7 linked regions of the Homo sapiens genome follow. The protein of the gene in region 7 interacts with the protein of the main gene of each other region in a pairwise test. Each region holds a gene or a part of one and is shown on either strand. Other genes may lie near its edges.

The links.
Region 1: the proteins of THAP4 (region 7) and AIG1 interact in binary tests that used the Homo sapiens proteins (3 or more experiments, as listed by UniProt).
Region 2: the proteins of THAP4 (region 7) and CYP4F2 interact in binary tests that used the Homo sapiens proteins (3 or more experiments, as listed by UniProt).
Region 3: the proteins of THAP4 (region 7) and GIMAP1 interact in binary tests that used the Homo sapiens proteins (3 or more experiments, as listed by UniProt).
Region 4: the proteins of THAP4 (region 7) and LPAR3 interact in binary tests that used the Homo sapiens proteins (3 or more experiments, as listed by UniProt).
Region 5: the proteins of THAP4 (region 7) and CACNG1 interact in binary tests that used the Homo sapiens proteins (3 or more experiments, as listed by UniProt).
Region 6: the proteins of THAP4 (region 7) and COL4A5 interact in binary tests that used the Homo sapiens proteins (3 or more experiments, as listed by UniProt).

What each region holds. Positions count from the first base shown.
Region 1 is NC_000006.12:143,137,389-143,140,888, forward strand, and holds part of AIG1 (androgen-induced gene 1 protein), read left to right. Parts: intron 1-3,500. UniProt on the Homo sapiens protein: Hydrolyzes bioactive fatty-acid esters of hydroxy-fatty acids (FAHFAs), but not other major classes of lipids. Show a preference for FAHFAs with branching distal from the carboxylate head group of the lipids.
Region 2 is NC_000019.10:15,895,275-15,899,515, forward strand, and holds the start of CYP4F2 (cytochrome P450 4F2 precursor), read right to left. Parts: upstream 2,801-4,241; 5' UTR 2,752-2,800; intron 2,339-2,751; 5' UTR 2,338-2,338; coding exon 2,140-2,337; intron 377-2,139; coding exon 232-376; intron 1-231. UniProt on the Homo sapiens protein: A cytochrome P450 monooxygenase involved in the metabolism of various endogenous substrates, including fatty acids, eicosanoids and vitamins.
Region 3 is NC_000007.14:150,722,199-150,724,784, forward strand, and holds the end of GIMAP1 (GTPase IMAP family member 1), read left to right. Parts: 3' UTR 1-2,086; downstream 2,087-2,586. UniProt on the Homo sapiens protein: May regulate lymphocyte survival. Required for normal levels of mature T-lymphocytes and mature B-cells.
Region 4 is NC_000001.11:84,865,707-84,869,206, forward strand, and holds part of LPAR3 (lysophosphatidic acid receptor 3), read right to left. Parts: intron 433-3,500; 5' UTR 415-432; coding exon 1-414. UniProt on the Homo sapiens protein: Receptor for lysophosphatidic acid (LPA), a mediator of diverse cellular activities. May play a role in the development of ovarian cancer. Seems to be coupled to the G(i)/G(o) and G(q) families of heteromeric G proteins.
Region 5 is NC_000017.11:67,051,054-67,054,553, reverse strand, and holds part of CACNG1 (voltage-dependent calcium channel gamma-1 subunit), read right to left. Parts: intron 559-3,500; coding exon 484-558; intron 1-483. UniProt on the Homo sapiens protein: Regulatory subunit of the voltage-gated calcium channel that gives rise to L-type calcium currents in skeletal muscle. Regulates channel inactivation kinetics.
Region 6 is NC_000023.11:108,600,338-108,603,837, forward strand, and holds part of COL4A5 (collagen alpha-5(IV) chain isoform 2 precursor), read left to right. Parts: intron 1-1,055; coding exon 1,056-1,148; intron 1,149-1,547; coding exon 1,548-1,652; intron 1,653-2,626; coding exon 2,627-2,724; intron 2,725-3,500. UniProt on the Homo sapiens protein: Type IV collagen is the major structural component of glomerular basement membranes (GBM), forming a 'chicken-wire' meshwork together with laminins, proteoglycans and entactin/nidogen.
Region 7 is NC_000002.12:241,585,159-241,588,658, reverse strand, and holds part of THAP4 (peroxynitrite isomerase THAP4), read left to right. Parts: intron 1-3,500. UniProt on the Homo sapiens protein: Heme-binding protein able to scavenge peroxynitrite and to protect free L-tyrosine against peroxynitrite-mediated nitration, by acting as a peroxynitrite isomerase that converts peroxynitrite to nitrate.

The sequences.
Region 1 (3,500 bases), on a different chromosome or scaffold from region 7:
AGTCTCCAAATACAGTCACATTGTGAGATTCTGGGGGTTAGGGCTTCCACATATGAATTTTGCAGAGGACACAATTCAGTCTATCAGTTTCTTAAGCAGCCCAAACTTGAAAGGTAGGGTCCTTGGGTCAACCAGGCTTTTGAACTTGGGAGAGGAGATCAGTATTAGCTCATACTTCTTCAGTTACCCAGCTGTGCCATTAGCTACTATCACTGAAGTAAATGCCTCTTAATGTTTGGGTCTGTTTTGACTTCATTGATTTTCATTGTTTTCAGTTAGATTCTCTTCATAACTCAACTTCCTTCACAAGTCTGTTAATTTTCCATTGTCTGCACATAAACCATGTTTTTTTAAAGGCCCTCAGAGACCCTACAGATTTTAACCTCTGTGTAGCCAGGAGAAGAGAACTCATATATATCACAAACTGTAAAGATGAGTAAGAAGTTGTTATTTAATTCAAATTCAGACCTTTCATTTGCCAGCTGATTTCGGGGGAAAACAGAAGTCTCAGTGATGTGGTCTAGCACATGCACCAAGTCCATTGTAGGAAGAATCAGAAAGTTGATCATAAGTCCTTCCAGTGGATTACTCATATTTGTCAGGTTTGTAGCTGGTAGAAGGCCCTACATGCTTGCTTTAAGACCAATTAGTAGACACTCAGATGGTCACTGAATTGCTTTTTCTGTGTGCCAAATTATATTTTCTTGGATGAAATAAATAGCCCTTAACCCTGAGAAAAACACAATGGCCAGAGAGCATTATAATTTGTTGACACTCCTCATTCCCTCATCCTTGTCCTCTGAAAACTTAAATAAATGAGTACTCAGATTGAAGCTAACCAGCAAATCTCTCAGATTCCATTGTTTAGCATAGCAGAGTTTAATGCTTTCCATATTACTTAATATTTCCTTCTTTGGACTTTCCATATAAAATTCAAATACTTTCTATCAGAATAGTCATCTAAGAGAAAATTTCCATTAGCATAAAGCACAAAGATACATACTTTCTGCATAAAAGAATTATCTAGAAAATCTCAGTCTCTCTGTGTGTACATGTATATGCATCTATATCTAATATCTAATATATGCATGTATATTATATATATCATGTATACATTTTTTCTTTTTTAACGTCTACTCCCTTGGAATTTCTATAGCCATGTCATTGCCTGTGGAAGCCTTCGTTGGCTAGAAGGATTACAATAGTAATACAATAAAAAAGTAGGCCAGGCGCAGTGGCTCACGCCTGTAATCCCAGCACTTTGGGAGGCCGAGGCGGGCAGATCATGAGGCCAGGAGATCAAGACCATCCTGGCTAACACAGTGAAACCCCATCTCTACTAAAAATACAAAAAATGAGCCGGGCGTGGTGGTGGGCTCCTTTAGTCCCAGCTACTCAGGAGGCTGATGCAGGAGAATAGCTTGAACCTGGGAGGTGGAGGTTGCAGTGAGCTGAGATCTCACCACTGCATTCCAGCCTGGGCAACAGAGCAAGACTCTGTCTCAAAAAAAAAAAAAAAAAAAGTAAACATGAGTATAGTGTTAACATGTTTTCTCTTAGCTCCCTTCTGTATGTGATATCAAATTATGTCTCTACAGGGAAAATTTTGACTTATGTTGTAAATTTTGCTACTCTCCTCAAAAGCTCATGGCATATGCCCTTTAGACATTTTTGACCTTCCTTTGGGGGAAACTTTTGCACCTGCCTGAAGCTTGAAGTATATGTCAACTCTTGGTGTCTTTCCTAAAGTTATCCCATGTATGTTTCATGGTTTATAAAACAAGTGGTGGCCTTTTTGTTTAGTTATTTGTTTTAGTACATCTGATATTTTCCTCCATCTATCACTGTCTTTGTTGTTTTGCCTATGTTTTAGAAAAAAGAGGAATAAAAGTGCCTTTCATCCCCACCCACCCCATCCCTCTTAAACCAGAAGTCCCAGCATCACACTTTCATGGCGTGTGGGTGCAGCTGTCCTAGTGGCTCTCTGACAGCCCAGCCAGTCCTCATCACTGCGCCAGGGCCTCCCGTGTCACCCAGCACATGGAGGGGATCAGTGCTCTTGAGAATCACAAAAGAAATCAAAGAATAGATAAGGAATCAGAGATGTGTAACTCACTGATGTTTTTAACTCATTTTTTTTTTGCCCATTGATATTTTGTAGTCACTATTTCCATCTTTCATAATCATCCCTGTTACTGTGAGTCACTGTTCCCTTCATAGTTACTAGTCTATTATTTTCCTAAACTTTTAAATGTTCCTTTCAAAGAAAGTGACATTTCTTTCTCTCTTTTCCCCCCTCCTTTCTCTCTCTCCTCTCCTCTGTTTTAAGAAGAATCTAGGTCAGTATTCTCTAGAAATCATCATATGTTTTCTACTGTTTCTGTCTTGCTATGCTATTTGATGTTTTGTATCTATTTATGCAATTTCCACCAGACTTCTCACTCTAATACACAGAAATTCATTTTGAGGCCAAAAAAAGCCTGATAAATTGTTCATTCCCAAATCCCATTAATTTTATTGCAAAGTCATATTTATACAATATATGAATGTGCCTCTTTACAAGTATTTGTATTTGTCTGTTCTCAGACTGCTAATGAAGACATACCCGAGACTTGAGTAATTTATAAAGGAAAGAGGTTTAATTGACTCACAGTTTCACATGGCTGTGGAGGCCTCACAATCATGGGGGAAGCCAAAGGAGGAGCAAAGTCACGTCTTACATGGTGGCAAGAGAGTGTGTTCAGGGGAACTCCCCTTTATAAAGCCATCAGATCTTGTGAGACTTATTCACTATCACGAGAACAGCATGGGAAAAACTCGCCCCCATGATTCAATTACCTCCCACTGGGTCCCTCCCACGACACACAGAGATTATGGGAGCTACAATTCAAGATGAGATTTGCGTGGGGACACAGCCAAACTATATCAGTATTTTAACACAAAATTTTTTTTTCACTAAAACATTTAATTTTGTGATTTTTCGTCTTTCTGTCTCTAATGTTATTTCCCACCTTTCCTTTCCAAGGTGCTCTGTCTTCACCGTGGCTTCAGAGCTTCCCCTGTCCTTTCTGTACCTTTTTCCCTGTTCCCGCAACTGCTCAAAAGGGTCTAGAATCCTGCTGTAGTTTCATTCTTATGACTTAGGACTTTCTTCCTTATTAAAATGCAAACTCTCCCTGGAGCAATGCCACAAGGAATCACATGAAGAAGCATCATTTTTACTTTTTCTGTGCCTCCTGGCCTGGAATGGAAGTGCCAACCTGGACGGTTCATTACATCAGAAGGATGGAAGAGCATTAATGGCCAGGAACTGATGGAAGCAGAATTATGCCTGTAGGAATCTGTAGCATAAAAATGCTTATCATGTGTGCAGATGATTAGTGATAACATTTAGAAGTAAACATCTTCATCACTTTGGTGGACACAGTCAAAATCCTAAGGGGCAGAATTCTTAAGCACCCTCTCTGTGCCAGGGGAGTACCAGACATCCTATAGCTACA
Region 2 (4,241 bases), on a different chromosome or scaffold from region 7:
TTGAGGTCTCTTAGGGTTCCAGGGCAGCCCAGAACACCAGAACAGGGGGTAGATGGCAATAGAGAGAGGAGACGCTGAGATGGAAATTGATGAATACATGAAAGAAAGATGAAGATAGCTGAGAGGGAAGGAAAGGAGAGGCCAGAGTACTGCAGGGCCCACACAGGAGCTTGGGGATAGCGGAAGTGCAGGCCTCAAATGCACTGCCCCACCAGCTGTTCCAGATGGTACCTGAGGCGTTGATGACAGACCGGATGATGTCGGGGTGGCACAAACTGAGGAGGGGGGAGATGGGTCCCATCCAGACCTTAAAGCCCTGGGGGTAGGTGGCCACCAGCTGAGTCAGAACTCTCATGCCCTCCTCTGTGGGGTTGACCTGCAAGCAAGGCAGGGGTCATTACCTTCTGTGATAGTTAATTCTAGGTGTCTACTTGACTGGGCTAAGGGATGCCCAGGTAGTTGGTCAAACATTATTTCTGGGTGTGTCTAATCTATTCATCCTATCTATCTAATTTTTCTATCTATATATCTATCTGCCTACCCATCTATCCATCAATCCATTTTATCTGTGCTTTCATCCATCCATATATTCATCTGTCTGTCTGCTTATCATCTATTAATAGCCATCTATCCGTCTAATCTATCCATCATATATATCTACTCCATCTGTCTACATAATCTATCCATCCTATCTACTCTATCTACCCATCCATCCATCATCCATCCATCCATCCATCCTATCTGTGCATCCGTGTGTCCATGCATCCATATGTCCTATTATTTGTCTATCTATCTATCCATCCATCCATCCATCCATCCATCCATCCATCCATGCTATCTGTGCATCCATGTGTCCATGCATCCATCTATTCTATTATCTATCTACCTACGTGCCTGTCCATCCATCCATCCATCCATCTATCCATCCTATCTGTGCATCTATCTATCTATCCTATTAGCTATCTATCTATCTATCTATCTATCTATCTATCTATCTATCTACATTCCTCCTGCTCTATCTATCTATCTATCCACATTCCTCCTGCTCTATCTCTCTTGGGTCCATCTCCAAGTCCCAAGGGTGCATCCCAGGGCAGAGGGAGAAGACGCACTGTCCACTCACAGAGGCCCAGTTATCTTGAGAGGAAGGATTTTCTTTTTCTGGGAGTCATTTCAGCCCAGAGGCAGCTATATGGGGAGGTCCTCACAGGGGAGATTTGTGGGGAGCAGTATCGCCTCAGGACATGTCCCTAAGGCTGGTCCCCACATGCCTTCATGTCCTGGCTGATCCACAGAGGCTCCAGTTCCTCCCATGGAGAAGGTTCTGCACATGGGAGACCTTCCCTTTTCAGCAGCCACTAGTGGAGCAGAGGTGACTCTAACTGTCCATCAGGACAATGGCTCCCACCTGGGAGCAGCTTCTGCAGCAGGCTCTGTGCTAGTGTGTCCTGTGCACCCTTCCACTTTATCTGTGGACACATCCATCAATCCTGCCATTTGCAAATGAGCAGACTAAGACCACATTCCCCAAAGAGGAGAGCGGTCTAAGTCAGAGGGCAAGGTCACGGGGAGGAGAAAGGCCAAGGAAAGCTTCTGAAAGGTGAAGTGAGTGGCCAACTTTTATCTGGGTTTGGCAACAGGTCTCATTGATAAGAGGGAGATAAGAAGAAGAATATAAGAGAAAGGTGCCTTCGGGTGTAGTGGAAGTGGGAGACGGCCCATGCCTCTCCTCTGGCCCAGCTGTACCCTCATAACAGGAAATAGTCCAGGCAAGGAGAGGACCCTGGACAGTGGGCATAAGAAGCCTCGAGTCCAGCAATGGAGAATGTGGGAATGCCAGGGACTCGCCTCTCTGTGCAGCCAACCCTCTGCCCAGGAGCCCCGCAGAGGTGCATTAATGTGGGAAGACAGGCAGGAAAAGGATTCAATGCAGGCCTGGAGTGGGAGGACAAGGAAGTGAGAAGGGCTTGCGTAGGCACCTCACAGAAATGAATAAGCAGAGGAATGAGTAAGATGCCTCCTCTGCTTCTCTGCCACCCCAGATCCCAGCCCACCCCTTCACCCCCACTCCCTAAGCCTCGTACCCCTCAGGAAGTCCATCCATCCTGAGACCTAGACCCATCCTGCTGCCACACTCACCATGCCCTGGTGTCCCCAAAACCAGTTCCGTCTTGGGGGTTGTGGGAAACACCGAAGGCGGCGGCAGTTGTCATAGAAGGCGTAGGTCCAGGCCAGGACATGGGCCAGGAGCCAGGAGGCCCCGACCAGCAGGAGGAGCAGCCAAGGGGATGCTGCCACTGGCCAGAGGCCCAGCCAGGACAGGCTCAGCTGGGACATCCTGCAGGGCAGACGGGATGGACGGTGAGATCCTGAGGCCCAGAGAACGGCCCAGGGACCTCCAGGGACAGTGGAGAGGCAGGGACGGGCAGTGCCGGAGGTAGAGCAGGGAGGGCTCAGGGATGGGTAAAAAGGGGCTGAGAGGTAAAGTCCAGAAAGGCCCAACCAAAACCAGCAGCCAAGTGGCCTCCAGTTCCCTAGTAAGCACTTAGAATGGGAAAGAGAGAGAGAGACTGATTAAAGTCCAGAAAGGCCCAGCCTGAATCACTGTGAGGTTGCCAGGGGCTTGGTTTCAGTTACTCGGAAACCACCCATCCTCCAGGCCAGCACCCAGGAGCTGCGTGGGCCTTGGGCAGTGCCCCTCTCCATCCCAGGCCAGGACCCCCCCCAGGCCTGCCACCCCCAGCCTGGCACCTTCTGTCAGGAGCAGTCTGTCCCAGACAACCTCCTCTCTCTGTCTGCTGGGAGGCCTTTGACCCTGGCCCTTGATATAGCAAAGGCTGTGGGAGGGCTGGCTGGGTTGGGCTGGGCCAACCAATCCCTGCAGCCTGGATGTGTCTCCTGAGCCTGGGCAGCCAATCAACACCTGGCGTCAGGCCAGCTGGGTGCAGAGGAATCAGCTCAGGGTCCAGATGGATGGGTAGATGCACAGATAGATAGAGTAGATAGGATGGATACATTAGGTAGATAGATAAAGTAGATATAGATAATGGATATATTAGACAGATGGATAGATAGCTATTAATAGATGATAGATAGATACATAGATAATAGGATAAATAGATGGAATGGATAAACGTACAGCTAAGATGGATTGATGGATGGATGGGTAGGCAAATATATATATAGATGAGAAATTAGATAGATAGGATGAATAGATTAGATAGACACACCCAGAAATAATGTTCCATCTCTGTCCCAGATATGTGGGATCCTCATTTGTGACATGGGAACTAGGGATCTTGGATCACTCCAATCACTCCAGATGCTACAAGGCCAGTGACTTACTCAGTATGATGCTGAGGAACATGACCATCAGAAACAGGATCAGAGTCACTCTCAAGCAAAAAAAAAAAAAAAAAAAAAAAAAAAAAAAAAAAAAACTCCAAGGATTAAATGATTTTTCCCATTGTCCTGGGGAGAAATTAATCCAAGGGAGGTCACAGGAGGGCAAATAATTCCCCATCACCACCACCACCACCATGAGCATACCATCACCCATGGAGTTTTCTGATTTACTCTTTGGCCCATTAAGCGTGAAATTTCTTATGCTAGGTTTCTTTCTGATAAGGGAGAAGAGATTAGTATCTCTACATTTCCTCTCCTCCTGCTACCTAGTCTCTGTATTCTAGGTTAAATTATAATTTATGTTGAGGATTTACAATGGCTGATACACCTAGCTGAGCCTTCTGCACAGAGATACATTGGGAGTGGAGGTTAATTGGGTCAAAGGAGAAATGCCATAAGCCCACACTCCAGCCTATCAGGGTGGATTAAAGGTCTGATTTGCCCAACTCTTGTCACACCTGCTCCCACTGAGAGGTGACAGCATGCTGGCAGTCCTCACAGCCCTCACTCGCTCTCGGCGCCTCCTCTGCCTGGGCTCCCACTTTGGCGGCACTTGAGGAGCCCTTCAGCCCACCGCTGCACTGTGGGAGCCCCTTTCTTTTCTCTTCTTTTCTTTTTTTTTGGATTTTTTTATTATTATTATTATACTTTAAGTTTTAGGGTACATGCGCACAATGTGCAGGTTAGTTACATATGTATACATGTGCCATGCTGGTGCGCTGCACCCACTAACTCGTCATCTAGCATTAGGTATATCTCCCAATGCTATCCCTCCCCCCTCCCCCCACCCCACAACAGTCCCCAGAGTGTGATGTTCCCCTTCCTGTGTCCATATG
Region 3 (2,586 bases), on a different chromosome or scaffold from region 7:
GAGGTCATGGAGACATGGGAAGCAGGTATTCACATTAGCTCTATTCAAGAGGAAGAGGAGGAGGGAGTGTGCGCAGGCGCCCTAGGGTCTTCCCCAGCACACGTTGGGAAGAAGGGGTCTGCAAGCATGCGCACAATTGCCAGCTCAGGCTAAGGACTGCAGGAGGTTCCAGGTGGGTTGCGGGCTTCGGGCAGGCTATGGTGAGGGGTCCTGAGGGCCTTGGTGACCGCTGCAGGGAGTTGGACTTTTTGAAGCGTGGCTCAAGAAAAACCCATGTTTAATTCCTGCCTTTCGCTTCCTCAGCAGCCTTTCTGGGCCCAGGCAGGGGCCTCGAGCCAGGGAAGGATCCTTTGATGACCAGAGGGGACAGCAGGGAGGGCACAGCGTGGTCGTCCACGGTCACTTGCGCACGAGCCAGTGCTGCTGCTGGTGTTAGACAACAACTTTTATCAAAGTGGTTTAATGTACAGCAGCAACAAAGCTGCTTTGTGGAGCAGGGCTCCCAATAGGCAGTGTGCCCAGAGTAGCAGCTCGGAAGCAGTACTGCAATCACATTTATACCCACTTTCAACTATATGCAAATTTAGGGGTGGATTATGCCAAAATTTCTAGAAAAAAGGTCGTAACTTCCAGGTCGTGGGATTGTTGCTATGGAAAGGAGCCAAAACTTCCAGCTGTTGCCTTAGCAATGGTAACCTGACGTGGCACTGGTGAGTGTGTTTTATGGAGAGACTCTTTCACCTCTTCCCTTTCAGCTTGTCTTCAGTGTGGTCTGGAGCCCAATCCCCACCTCCAGAGTCTAGTCCTGCCTCCTACCTCAGTAATAAAAAGTAGTAGTATATGGTTAATTGTCAAATACATTTGCAAAGTGTAATCAAAGATACATTACCAATCTGAATCTCAAAATGTGCTATCATCTTTGAATTTGAATAATGTATTATTAAAGAAGTTACAGTTTTCCTTTACATTCAATAACATTTCTTTAGTGGTTTTCTTTTTCAGATACTTTGATTATGATCTTTTTTTTTTCATCTTTGTATCCCCGTTATACAACCCAGTGCCTGGCATAGAAAGTGGGATCAACAAATGTTTGGAAAATGAATTGTAAAGTTGACTTTCCTGTACCTTTTTAATATTAGATTTCTAGCTACCAGACTTTTGACCATTTTCTAAATTTTCTACCATAGATAACAGAAAATTCTTTCGCGCAAGCATGTCATTGTATTAATGATATTCTCCTGCCCTAAGGAAATTTACTTCCCTTCAAGCACAGGGTCCCCCAAATTACTGTATTTCCACCCCTTTCAGCTTATTTTATCCTTTTCTCCTGCTACAGAACAGTTGGCATTCACCATTCCCTTCGGTAAAGTCTTTTTTTAGGCTGTGGCTTAAAGGTTGCTTTTTCCCCCATAGCTCAAGGTTAGGCCTTGTGACCTCACTTATGTAATTTGAGTGATTTGATAGCACAAATCAATTTTATACTTAAATTACAGCATAAAACAGCACTGCCTCCTGTTGGAAAAACTTGCTTGCTAATTTTAACCAGACACAGTAAAAATACTGTCCAATACCTCAAAAATTGTGTAAATATATATCCATTTCAATTGTCCCCCTTCCTCTCCTCTCCTTTTATCTCTTGGAAGATAAAAATGTATGGGTCCTGTGCTGATAATGTTTCTGTTCATATTTCTATGCCCTGGTACCTGGATCAGCTTTTGTTCTACACAAAAAGACTTGTATCTGGCTTATTTCTGAAAGCTAGTGTTGGCCATGATGAACTTTTAGAGCAAAAGATTTCAGGCAGAGTACATTCTTACATATTCTTACACAATCAATATTCAGTTCCAGCCCGCACAGTAGCCCTAGCAAATGCCAGTGCTCCTTCCAGAGATTCACCTATGGATTCAGTACCCCAGAAGAGAATTTCTGTAAATTCTTGGGGAAGCTATAGCTAGACTATGGCTCAACACTCATTTTTCCCCCATGATTCTTAATCTAACAGTGGCAATGTTGGCCTCTTCTTAGGCAACTAGATTCGGTTCTTGCTTATTCTGCCAATAAAATACTTTATTGAGATGCTTACAAATTTGTCCCCTCCTCTTTATTTCTTTAAGAAGTTATCACTCCATATACTGGATGTTTAGTTATAATTATTGGTTTGAGTCTTATTTTTATACTTTCAATCACATTCTTTGCCTAATTCTTCTCATATTTTTATATTTTCTTTCCCTCCTCATAATTCTCTTTACATACCACTAAGTTTAGGCACTTGGACTTTTTTTACTTTCAAAATGGTGTTATATTGTGCATATCCTCTTGACTTCATACGTCTGAAGACTCCTAGACTATCTTTTCTACTACATGCTAGCAGAATGTATCATGATGAACACTGAAGAGAATTGCATACCACTGCTCAAAAATTAAACACACACACTTGCATGCATGCAAACGTGCGCGCGCGCACACACACACACACACACACACCAAGGATAGACATCTCAATCTCAAGAAATAAAAAGGAAAGAAAGACTTTCTGACTTCCAGTTCTGCAGAAGGATCAACTCCAGGTTTTAAGCCTGAATTATC
Region 4 (3,500 bases), on a different chromosome or scaffold from region 7:
GCTATGGACCCGCATCCTCATGATTGACATGTGCCTCTCCACGGCGATAACCAGCAAGTTGGTGAGGGAAGCAGTCAAGCTACTGTCCAGAAGCCCCTGACGGAGAAACCAGCGGTTGACAGTCAAAGTTTTTGAAACTGGGCCTGTGTTAAACATCAGGAATACATAGGCAATTCCAGCGAAGAAATCGGCAGCAGCTAAATTAGCCAACAGGTAGTAGAAGGGGAAATGAAATTTTCTGTTTTTGATCACTGCCGCGATGACCAGAGAATTAGAAAAAAAAATAAACAGGCAGAAAAACGTCCCAACACACAAAACAATCACAAGCTTTGTTCCTGTCCAGTCATCGACAGTATCAGTGTTGCTCCTATTATAAAAAAAGTCCATGTGCTTGTCATAGTGACACTCATTCATTGTGGAGAAGTGAACATCCTAGAAAGAAATTTAAAGAAGAAACAAATATCATTTGTAAAATCAGTCACTAAGCCATCAATTGCTGTTTCTAAGCCCGTTCTGGCTAACTCCCATCAAGGGAGTTGAAGACCTGAAGTGTCAGGTCTCAGTGCAAATGTCCTTTGGTCCAGGACATAGCCCCTGACCTCCTACCACAGCATTTAGCGCACATTTTAATTGTTTGTTTCCCAGGCTAGGCCGCTCAGGTTAGGAGGGTGTATCTCTATTTTGTTCACCATTACAACCCTAGGATTCAGTTGCTCTGTCTGCCTCATGGTGGGTAATTATTGGTAGGTTGGCTGGCTGGCTGAATGAATGAATGAATTCTCATGGAGGCATCAACAGGGCAAATGTGCTGAGCCCTGCAATATCCACTCTGCACTGGTAACACAATGACAACACATTATGTTAATGCCTCCTCCTGGCTCCCAGTTCATTAGTTATTTATGGATATGTTCATTAATCAACGGCAGGTTGGTAATTTCAGGTACATTCTTCCCAAGATAATAGGAGTTGAATTACCATTCACATAACCAAACAGATACCCCAAGAGACCAGTTTTCTATGACTTCTGATTCCACTCCTGATCCTCCTTTTGCCATCTTTTGGTTTCAACAAACAACTCTGATATTCACATATTAGGTATATGATGCAGGGATGGAGACTTTGGTCCCAATATCTCCCTTCCTTACCTTTTGTTCACTTCTTCCTTATAGTCTCCTAACCCAAACTGTACCAATGTGAACCTGCTCACTGGATTTTCCAGCATTCCTCAACACGGCAGGTGGAGGAGGATCGGGCTTCCACAGGCAAGACTGAGATTTGGAATTGGGGCAGATCTCCAACTCAATGTGGATGTGAGAACATATCTATTAAGTGAGGGCATGTTCTTCAGACACTTGTCTGAAAGAAGACCCCAAACTGGGATATCAGGCAGACAGGGAAGACACTAATCCTCTCAGTAAAAGATCTCTTGAATCCCAAAAGCGAGGGATCTTGGCCAAGGAAGGGCTGGGCAGAAGCCCCACGGATGCCCATCTGTCTACACGTGGTGGGGAAAACCAAGTGTTCTGCCTCACAGTGGTCTGGCCACAGCCATGAACGGTCCTACGGAAGAAGATTGGGCTTAGGGTCAGGGTTCTAGCTTCTTGGAAGAATGACCATCTGCTCCCTCACTGAGAATGAGGCTGCAGCTTATTCCCTGGAGAACCAGAGATTCAGTCGGCAGAGGGACTGAGCAGCCCTCTGGGAGCTGTGACAGTAAAAGCTCAGTAAAAGCCCCCAGATTTTAAAGTTCCTGAAAATTCTGAAATCTAATACCACAACCAGAATCAAGAAGACCAGATAACTATTAAGTAGTACAAAATAGAAATGTATCTCAGTCTTTTTTTTAATTTATATTTTAATGGTATAATGATACTTTTACATGAATTAGATATTGCTTTTTGGCCATAGCAAATGGGAGGTAAATATCATTTTATATGCTTAAAAAAAACTGGGAGTAGTCTCAAGAGACAAATGGTTCCAGTATCTTTCAATTACAAGAAAGGAAGACTCAATTTTCATAATGACAAAATAAAAATTACTCTCTTTGGCAGACAGTCACCAATATTTAACTGTAAATATCAAATAAATTCATGATAATATCATATATTTACACTATATCATAATTTCCCCAAATTAAAAATACAGGTAGTATAATTTTAATAGCTTCACAATATTCTATTATATGAATAGGCCACACCTGACTTAACTAATCCTAAATACTGGACATTAGGGTTGCTTCCTGTATTTCACTTTTATAAGCAAGGCTGCATTCTTGTTCATTAATCTTTATATATCTAGCCAATTGTTTCTTTAGGAATAACCCATAGATTTCAAATTGAAGTAAAGGATATAAATCTATTTAAGGGTTTCTGATACATCTTGTGAAACTCCACTTAAGAGAGATAGCATTTTTTTTTTTCCAAGATGGAGTCTTGCTCTGTCGCCCAGGCTGGAGTGCAGTGGTGCAATCTTGGCTCACTGCAACCTCTGCCTCCTGGGTTCAAGTGATTCTCCTGTCTCAGCCTCCTGAGTAGCTGGGACCACAGGCGCATGCCAGCACGCCCGGCTAATTTTTGTGTTTTTAGTAGAGACGGGGTTTCACCATGTTGGCCAGGATGGTCTCGAACTCCTGATCTCAGGTGATCCGCCCACCTTGGCCTCCCAAAGTGCTGAGATTACAAGCATGAGCCATCACACCCAGCCTGAGAGATCATATTTTTAATTCTACCAGCAGCATATGAGAGTTAAATACAAGGTGCTAATCTAGTGATACTCAATTTAAATATTTAAAGAGAAATACAGCTTTCAACCATGTTGAAAGTATACAGAAATTCAAGACAAACAATCCGAGAATCACTTGCTATGGTCTGAATGTTTGTGTGCCTCCAAAATTCATGTTGACACCTAACCCTAACTGCAGTGATATTAATAGGTGGGGACTTTGGGAAGTGAATGGGATTAGTGCCCTTATTGAAGAGGCCTGAGAGAACTCGTGAGACCCTTTTTGCCACACTGCCATTCAAGGACACAGCATTTGCCCCCTTCTGGAAGCAGAGACCAGGCCCTCACCAGACACCAAATCTACTGATGCTTTGATCTTGGACCTCCTAGCTTCCAGAATAGTGAGCAATAAATTTCTGTTATTTATTAATTACCTAAAGTATTTTTATTATTGCAACAGGAATAGACTAAGACACCACATGGGAAAATTTAATAATACAATTATTATGTGTCTTTTCTAATTAAAAATAATGTATATATTTTACTTTGTTTCATGCTCTATACATCTAAGAGAAACATTTCTAATTTAAAAGTTATATTATCTTTGACTAATTTATTAGAAATATAAAGATGAATATGTCACAAAGACATTGGAATTAAGACACTACAAAAATACTACTCAAATTTTCCTAATTTTATTTTGAAGGATCTTAACATTTTAGTTTTATTTCTTACATGTGGTCGAATTTTTAATTATATCAAGCACTAACACCTCAATG
Region 5 (3,500 bases), on a different chromosome or scaffold from region 7:
GGGTCTGTACTCCCGACAATGGGTGTGCGTCTGAGCTCTGCGGATCCTGAAAAGCTCCCAGAGCCCACCGCACCCTCCTGGTACTCAGGGAGGGATTTCTAGGCCAGGGAGGGACTCAGACTGTCCCTGCAGACTCTAACTATCACATGCCACCAAGAGCCACCACGGGGCTTCTGAGCATTTGTTCCACATCCACACCTCCCGTCACAACAGCTGCCCTTGTGTAGGGGCCTACCAGGAGGTGCTGCTTCTGCAAACGCTCCCTGGCCCCGAGGTGTGGAAGCTCCGGGCCCTGGAGATGGAAGGCGGCTGCCTGGGGCCTCCGGAGCGGGGAGCTGACAAGGCTGTTGTTCAAATGCACCACAGGCTTCTTCTCATCAGGCGTGAGGAAGTCAGTGCTTTTGCCAATGACTTTCTGGCCCAGTGGTGCACAACACAGAAGTCCCCTCTTGTCACCCCAGACCCCTTTCCACCCAGGCTCACCCTTCTGAGTGGTGAATTCGAAGATCTCCGAGCTCTCGCCGGGGTTAAAATGCCTGAAGTAGGAACAGTTCTTCTCTGCAAAGGAGGAGACAGACTGTGAGTTGAGGGGAGCAACCCGTAGCAAGGACAGAGGCCTGGCAGAGAGCGTGGTGTCATTCTGCTCGGCATGCAGGGGGCTCTGGCAGCCTCTCTTCTCCCCAGATCCTTAATCTGGGCTGAAACATCTGTCTTTGACCCTTAGAACAACATCTCAGTGGGATAATGAGGTTGCCTGCAGGGCTGGGAGGTCTTCAGGGAGCTGAGGCTGGATGAGTCTGCAGGGCAGACGGCCTGTGGGTTCTGCACCCCATTAGGCAGACAGGGTAACCGAGGCCCAGGCTCAAGCCATTTTTCAGGGTGTGCAGGGTGCACAATCAACAAAGAACCAAACAGCAGTCTCTGTTGGGGCCGATTCTGCCCCCCCAGGGGACACTTGGCGATGCCTGGGGTTATGGTGGTGGTGAGAGGGGTACACCTGGCACCCAGCCGGTAGAGGCCACAGACGTTGCTGAACATCCCAAGACACACAGGACAGGTCCTCCCAACATGGAATGATCCAGGCCAAAATATCAAGAGTGTCAAGGTTGAGAAACCCTGGATCAACCCCAAACCTGGGACTGTGTTTCTCATCAGAATCCAGGCACACCCTGGTTCATTGGTGGGACCTGGGAAACAGTGTTTTTCAAAAGCTTTCTGGGAGAGCCTGATGTGCAGCCAGGATGGGAACCCTGCTCCAGGCCCCTTAAAATGCCCTGCAAAGGGCTTTTTCCGAGTGGCCATTGGGATGGCCTGGATGCAGATGGAACCCCTACGAGGGCTGAATGTGACCATCATGTGGTTTCACTGGGTCCCTGGTCTTTGCGAGACAGCCCAGATGAGACCTGCCCCCACAAAGCCGCTTGGCCCACCTGATAATTGTCATAAAAGCTATGGAAAGTCTGTGGGCAGTAGGAACGCAAATCTGAATTTGATGAGGGAGAGGGGAGGGGCTCAGCACAAGGAAATTCATGCTGATTTAAAATATAATTTCATTTCCATTTTTCTCTTTCAGTCTCTCTCTCATAGCTAGGTATACTATAAAATCAAAGCACAGGCCGGGCGTGGTGGCTCACACCTGTAATCCCAGCACTTTAGAAGGCTGAGGCAGGAGAATTGCTTCAACCCAGGAGGCAGAGGTTGCAGTGAGCTGAGGTCGTGTCACTGCACTCCAGCCTGGGTGACAGAGTGGGACTCTGTCTCAAAAAAAAAAAAAGCACAGTCTTATTTCTTGCTAAATACGGTTTATCTTCTTTGCTCTTGATTTAGGAAGTGGATGAATGGGTTATTTTATATTATGTTTCCTTCCAAAACTAAATTAGTTTGCTTTTTATTTGTGGAGGCCCTTCATTGATTTCTTTTCCTGTGGATCAGTGACCCTTAAATAGAAAAACATCTCTTTCTCTAGTTGAGATGGTGTCTAGTTTGCCAATTCATTTCTTCACTTCCAGGCTTCATTTAGATGCTCATAAGGCGGTTGATGCCTAGTTCTTTCTGGAAATGTACCTGCAGTGATACCAAGGCTTTTCTTTGGGATGAAGACTTTCTTTAACCGGACCTAAATCATTCTTCTTGCACCTTAAGCCTGTGGTCTCATACCATGCCCCTCCTTCCCCCCAGAGCCAGGGCTGCTGCCTCTCCTGAGGTTGAGGAAGCAAATGACCCCTGGAGATGGGATCTGGTTTAGCAGCAGTACCCATTCCTGGCATAAACAGCCTTCTCTGTGTGCTTCTATATTTAAATCACTTTCCTTTTGAACCGCGTTACCTGGGGTGTCTGACTGCTGGTGGTGATGTCAGAATTGGTGCTCTGCTATTCTCTCTGGGCATCCGGTGCTATTTTAAAGCATAATGCAGATCTCTTCTATTTGTTAGATTATTGGCTGTAGATCTCTCGAATCACTGCTTCAAAATGGCCCATGCTATGTCATAAGTCTCCATGTGTCTCCCTCTGGACAAAGAAACATTTCTGTTTCTGTTTCATTCTTGAAGGGCCAATTTCAGTTGTCAGAATTGACTGAATTCAAGTGTATTTCATGGTCAGCTGCCTCCCTGACTGCTCAAAAGCCATAAGTTAAAATCCTTCCCAGCGGAGGGCCCTGAGATGAGGGCCATGGAGTGCCTTGCTGGGGGCACAGCTGTTTGCACCTGGTGGGTTGCTGAGGTGACTCTCACACAGGTAGCATTTGGCTCACCAAATCCCCACCAGATAAACGCCAGGCTCCGCCTGGCTGCTGGCTGCTTGGATAGAAATGATCTTAACTCAGACACAGGGGTAGGCTACGTGTCTGCAGGAGCCAGGTTGTGAGCTTCTGGGGGGATGCTTTTCTTTTGGTGGTCCAGGTACAGTGTTCCTCCTCCCTCTTCTCCATTAAGTGTCCTCAAATGGAGGGAGGGGGCCTCCAGTGGGTAGGATTCCTTCTCAGGGTAACAGGAAGCCTCAGCTTCACTCTTACATGGCTGAACTGGGGGCCTGAGGACTGATGGGCTGACCTCTCCCCTTTCTTGGGCTTAGCATGTGAAAAAGACCGGTGTCTCCTGCCCTGAACCTGAGAGAAACATCCACTCCTGGGCTATGTGGCTGCCCATTGGAGACCATAAACCCTTTCATGGTCTCTAATGGCCCCTGTAGGGGTGGGGGCACGTCAGACCCAGGCCTCATTTAGGACAAATCAGGCCAGGCATCTGCCCATGTTACTCAAGAGGGTGCAGGGTCCTGTTCAGATGGACAGACCCTACTATGAGCCCCTTCCCTCCCTGCCCTGTTCCTGGGTCTAGGTGGATATTATTTGGGAAACTGAGCATCCAGGGCAACGTAAAGAGGAAGGACATCCGAGGTGGACCCATCTTAGTCATGGGTCAAGAGGAGAGGGACCGTGACGGTCCTGTGCAGACTCTCAGTCTTCCTGCCTCTGCCTCTGGGATGCCCCTCTCTGCCCCGCT
Region 6 (3,500 bases), on a different chromosome or scaffold from region 7:
ATCATCAAAATTATCAATCTTTTCTCTCATGGTTAGTGCTTTTTGTGTCATGTTTAGGAAATCTTTTTTTTCTTGAGCCAATTTCAAGTTCATGTTTCCATTAATAAGAAGTAGATATACTTGAACTTTGCACATGTAAAACCTAAATGTACCTATTAGCCAAAAAAATATTTTCCTTGTTTACTACAGTTTGATTTTTAATGCTCTTTTGGCCTACATTTTAAAAATACTTATATAGGTAACACCCTGTTTTAGGGGTTTCCAGAGAAACAGAACCAATAAAAAGGATGGACAGATGGGTAGATTAGATAGATAGATAGATAGATAGATAGATAGATAGATAGATAGATAGATGAGAGGTGATTTATTATGGGAATTGACTTACATGATTATGGAGGCTGAGAAATCCCACAGTAGGCCACCTGTAAGTTGAAGAACTAGGGAAGCCAGTAGCTTGGCTCAGTCCTAGTCTGAATGCCTGAGAACCTGAGTGGCTGCTTAGTACAAGTCCCAGAGTCTGAAAGCCAGAGAACCTGGAGTTGTGATGTCCAAGGGTAGGAGAGGATGGGTGTACCAGTTTCAAAAGAGAGAGAGCAGAGAATTCACCTTTTTTTCTGCCTTTTTGTTGTATCCGGTCCCTCAGCTGATTGGATGGTACCCACACACATTGGGTGAGGGTGGATCATCCTTATTCGTTTCACTGATTCAAATGTCAGTTTCTTTCGGAAACAGCCTCACAGACATATCTAGAAATAATGCTTTACCAGCGATCTCAGTATCTCTTAATCTAGTCATGTTGAAACCTAAAATTAACCATTATACATCTTGAATCATGGAAGTCCTTAAGGCTGTCATATCCTTTTTCTTTTTGAAATTCTATCCTTCTGTTTTATATATTTCTTGAATATATAGTGGAAGATTGTTTTTCTTGTGAATTTTTGTTAGTTTACATTTTCAAAAGATTGCTGATAATTTTCTTTTTTGTTTTTAATTAAAAAGAGACCTTTAGTTGAGTAAATACTTCTCATTTACCATTGATTTACTCTTGCTTTCAGGTCCTAAAGGGGATCCAGGTCAGACTATAACCCAGCCGGGGAAGCCTGGCTTGCCTGGTAACCCAGGCAGAGATGGTGATGTAGGTCTTCCAGGTATGTGAGGAATTTATTTCAAAGTAACTTCAACACCGATGGCTTTTTTTTTTTTTTTTTTGACAGAGTTTCGCTCTGTCACCCATGCTGGAGTACAGTGGCGTGATGTTGGCTTGCTGCAGCAACCTCCTACTTCTGGGTTCAAGCAGTTCTCCCTGCCTCAGCCTCCCAAGTAGCTGGGATTACAGGCGCCCACCACCACGCCCAGTTAATTTTTGTATTTTTAGTAGAGACGGAGTTTCTCCACGTTGGCCAGGCTGGTCTCGAACTCCTGACCTCAGGTGACCCATTGCCTCAGCCTCCCAAAGTGCTGGGATTACAAGAGTGAGCCACTGCACCTGGCCCTGATGGCTTCTTTCTTTGAACGTTTTCCTTTCAATAACTGCTGTTTCTCCATAGGTGACCCTGGACTTCCAGGGCAACCAGGCTTGCCAGGGATACCTGGTAGCAAAGGAGAACCAGGTATCCCTGGAATTGGGCTTCCTGGACCACCTGGTCCCAAAGGTATGTTGGAATGGGTAGCAGGCAGAGTAGGTTAGAAGTTTAGCATGATGTTATTCTCTCATAAAATTCATTCAACAAATAAAATATATTAATTGCACCTTTTTTCTCTGTGCTATAAAGAATGTAAATAAAAAATCACAGTGTATTTTCACTGTAAGTTCATTATCTTTATCTAAAACAGTCCAGACAAGAAAATATCTACATTTTAGATATGCAAAAGTGATATATAAGCTTAAAAATCACAGGAATTATTGTGTTTTGTGTTCACCATAGTATTTTCAGGGTTTAGAACAGTTCCTAACACATAGTGTGCACTTGATGTTTATTGAGTTAAAGGATTTTTTAAACAGAAAACAGACTTATTGCAGATGTGTAGCCAAGTAATGTTTTATGCTAAATAATATTTTCTTGATTTATTGAAATTTTTAGGGCTTATGCTTCAGTTCTGCTTTATTCCTCACAGAATTTATTCTCACAAATGGCAAGAGCACACAGTGGTCTGAGGACAGTTCTTAAATATATCTTTACTCATTTATACAAAATGCTTTCAAAAGTATCAGGTTTGATTTTATGTGTGTATGTATCTATAATATCTGCAGTTATTTTTAGATCATTTCCAAAATTATATGGTAGGCCCTTTGTCATACTACATCCAGATATAAGCAGAAGAAAAGTTCTTGGGCATTTTTGTGTGGGATTCATTCCTTACAATTTAGTTCTATCTTATTATATAATAGCCCTCATTTTCTTCAGAAAAGCATATGTTCCACATACATTAGCTCTATGTGAAAATAAAAGGAATGTAAGATGATTGAGAGGATTGTAAGGCTTAATCCTAAGTAGTAGAATGTCATTGTGCTTTTGACATCTTACTGTTGTCACTAAGCATGAGTAGAATGTGGGTTTGGGAATTTGAATATCTTTCTTAAAGTGCCTTTCCTTTGGTGGTTAAAAAATGACTTATCATTTTACAGGCTTTCCTGGAATTCCAGGACCTCCAGGAGCACCTGGGACACCTGGAAGAATTGGTCTAGAAGGCCCTCCTGGGCCACCCGGCTTTCCAGGACCAAAGGTCTGGGACATTTTTCTTTATTCCTTCTCATTTTCTTATCTTTCCCACCTTCCTTATTTCTAGCTCTCTATTTTGACTCAGATATCATCCCAAGCCCCAAGTCTTTACTATAAATATACAGATAACTTATTATATTTCCATTAAAAAAATATTTAACCCCAAATCATCTTTAATAGTCCAAGGTCACATTTGGAGCAAAAAAAAAAAAAAAAAAAACCTAATTTCTGTACCTACTTTTGAATGCCCAGTTCTTTGATTAGAGAATACAGGCATACCTTGGAGATATTGCAGGTTTAGTTCCAGACCACCACAATAAAGTGAATATCAAAATAAAGTGAATCACACAACTTTTTTTGTTTCCCACTACATATAAAGGTTATGTTTACACTATACTGTAGTCTTTAAAGTGTGCGATAGCATTAGGTCTAAAAAAAACCATATGCATACCTTAATTAAAAATACTTTATTGCTAAAAAATTTTAGCAATCATCTAAGCTTGCAGCAAGTTATAATCTTTATGCTGGGGGAGGGTTTTGACTCAATATTGATGGCTGCCCACTGATCAGGGTGATGGTTGCTGAAGGTTGGGTGGCTGTGGCCATTTTTTTAAATAAGACAACAATGAAGTTTGCCACATCAATTGACTCTTCCTTTCAGAAAAGATTTCTCTGCAGCATGTGGTGCTGTTTGATGGTATTTTACCCACAGTAGAACCTCTTTCAAAATTGGAGTGAGTCTTCTCAGACCCTGCTGCTGCTTTATCAACTAAGTTTATA
Region 7 (3,500 bases):
GTGCTTTTGTCGAAAATCAACTCACTTTGTGTGTGTGGTTCTTCCCCAGGACTCTCTCTTCTGTCCCACTCTTCTCTGTTTCGGTCTTTATACTGTTACCATGCTGTCTTGATCATTGTAGCTTTATATTGAATCAGGTGATAGAAGTTACCCAACTTTTCTTCTTTTTCTTTTTTCCAAAATTGTTTTGGCTATCCTAGGACCCTTTGCATTTCCTTATGAATTTCAGAATCAGCTTGTCAGTTTCTAGAAACATTTTCATTGGAACTACTTGAATTTCTAAATTAATTTGGGAAGAAGTGCCATCTTAGGCAAACTGAGTCCTCCAATCCAGTGCCATGGTAAGGTGCTCCATTTATTTAGATCAGTCTCATCCTATATTTTCTTGTAGTTTTCAACGTATTGGTTTTGCACACATTTTGTTAAATTTATTCCTACATATTTTGTGGTTTGGGATGCTATTATAAATGATTTTTTAATTTTCCACTTATTTGTTGCAAGTATATAGAAGTACAATTAGCTGTTGTATATTGATCTCGTATCATGTGACTTTGTTAAATTCATTCATTTCTGTAGTTTGTTTCTTTATTTTTCTTCTTTTCCTTCCCTCCCTCCCTCCCTCCCTTCCTTCCTTCCTTCTTTTCTCTCCTTTTTACTTTTTTCTTTCAATAAAAACAAGGTATTCTGTGTTGCCCAGGCTGGAGTAGAGTGGCTATTCTCTAGTGATTTTTTTCTTTTTTTTTGAGATGGAGTTTCTCTCTTGTTGCCCAGGCTGGAGTGCAGTGGCGCAATCTTGGCTCACTGCAACCCCCACCTCGCCAGTTCAAGTGATTCTCCTGTCTCAGCCTCCCGAGTAGCTGGGATTAAAGGCATGTGCCACCACACCCGGCTAATTTTGTAGTGATTTTTTTTTTCTTTGAACAGGGTTATTTAGAGATATGTTACTTATTTTCCAAATAATTGAGAATTTTTTAAATAGATTCTATTGCTCAGGATTTTTCATTCAATTCTATAAGGCCCAGACAACATACCCTCTAATATTTTAGTCTGTTAAAAAATGTTGGAGACTTATTTTACGCCCCAGTATATGGCCTAACTTCATGAATATTTCATGTACACTTAACGAATGTAGCATTCAATAGTTATAAAAGTCCCCTCCACAAGCTGGAAACCCTGGGATGCCAGTGTCATGGCTCAGTCCAAGTCCAAAGGCTTCAGAACCAGGGAAGTCAGTGGTGTCACTCTTGGTCCTGGGCCAAAGGTCTCAGAGCCCTGAGGAGAGAGGAGGTGCTGGTGACATCTGGGAGTCCAAAGGTCGGGGGGCCTGGAGGTGTCCAAGGACGGGGGAGGAAGAGTGTATCCCAGCTCCAGCAAACAGATGGACATATTCGCCTTATCTTTGTTTTTATTTTATCTGGGCCCCCAGCCTATTAGATGGTGCCCACCCTCATGGAGGGTAGATCTTCCTCACCTGGTCAGTCACCTCTGGAAACATCTTCTCAGACATACTCAAAATAATCCTTTACCGGGTTTCTAGGTGTTCCTTAATCGGTCACCTTTGACCTTTGACACCTAAAATTAACCATGACACCCACACCCACCTCTGGCTGCTTTCAAGTTTCTATTTTCTTGCCTTTGATTATCAGCCAAAGTTTTGCTGTGATATAATTAGAATTTGTGGCTTGATATATTTTGTTAGGCTCAGAAAATTGGCCATGATCTTTTCAAATATTGCTTGTGTTCTGTTGTCTTTCCTATCTTCTTCTGGGTCTCTGGTTACACATGTGTTCAGTCTTTTGCAATTTTCAATGTGTCCCTTATGCTTTCATCCATATTTTCCATTATTCTCTAAGCTTCAATGTGGATATTTCCTACTGATCATTTTCCATTTTACTAATCCTTTCTTCATCTGTGTCTAATTTGTCTATTTCATTATTGGGGCCTTAATTTGAGTTATTATGTTTTTCAGTTGTAGAATTTATATTTTAATCTTTTTGATAAATTCTGATTACCTGCAGAAATTCTCCATATTGTCTTCTAATAACTCCAGTATTGGTATCCCCTGGGTGAGGGTGGGGGAGGTGTCTATTTCCTGTTTTTTCTTTTGATCTTATCTCCTAGTAACCTAAGGAGTTTTTCTTTTTTTCTTGGATTCTAGACAATATGTGTGAAAAATTGTAGAGATGACTTGAGGCTTCCTTTGATGTTATCCTCACCAAAGAGCAGTTCTGTGCTTCTGCCTGTTGGTCAAGGATGGACAGCTCGTGTTCAGTAGAGGCTGAGCTGGTTTGAAACCGGACTTCCCAGCCTGTTTCTGGTTAACTCTTACTCCTGGGATGGGACCCTTCAGGGACCCCACCCAAAGCTGGGGTGCTTTTTTTTTTTTTTTTTTTTTTCCTCTTCAGATGGAGTCTCGCTCTGTTGCTCAGGCTGGAGTGCAGTGGCGCGATCTTGGCTCACTGCAAGCTCCGCCTCCTGGGTTCACGCCATTCTCCTGCCTCAGCCTCCTGAGTAGCTGGGACTACAGGCACCCGCCACCACACCCGGCTAATTTTTTTTGTATTTTTAGTAGAGACGGGGTTTCACCCTGTTAGCCAGGATGGTCTCGATCTCCTTACCTCGTGATCCGCCCGCCTCGGCCTCCCAAAGTGCTGGGATTACAGGCGTGAACCACCGTGCCCAACCTCAGGGTGCTTTTTTTCTTTCTTTTTCTTTTTCTTTTTTTTTTCTTTTTTTTTTTTTTTTTGAGAAGGAGTCTTGCTCTGTCACCCAGGCTGAAGTGCAGTGGCATGATCTCGGCTCACTGCAACCTCCACCTCTTGGGTTCAAGCAATTCTGCTGCCTCAACTTCCCGAGTAGCTGGGACTACATGTGCATACCACCATGCCCGGCTGCGCCTCTCCTCCTAGATGGACACTGAATTCCAGTGTTTGTCCCTCCAGCTCCATGAGTCTGAGAAGGCCCCACTTAGCTTCTCAGCCTCTTAGCTACCACATCCCTCTCAGCCTCCACCCCTTGAACCCCTTGACTTCCGGGCAGCAAAAGCATCGGGGCCAGTTGCTCCAAATTGGGTCTCACCTCCACACTTCCTTCTCTTTGGGGTGCTGGTCCTCGCTGACTTGGTGGTTCTCTGACACCTTTAAAGAAACTTCTTAAAACCTGGGTTGTTATCTGCAGGAGGGTTGGTCAGTTACAGAGTAGTCAGCCATGGCCATAAGCAGAACTCCGTTTCATCCACTTCTGGTGCCCCCCACCCCACATGACCCCCCACACATCTGGGGCACTAGAGAGATAGTGCCCATCAGAGAATTGTCTTTTGACAGTGGTCACTCTCACAATTTGCCGGCAAACATTCTGGGCATATAGGGCTGACTCATTCGGGACTTAGCTGCCATAGGCTTGGATTCTTGTTGGAAACAGCTGCTATAATTTATTCTGATGAATTACTGTTCCAAAGATGGTATTTCTGAGCTTTCCAAGAACACACTGGACATCAGTTC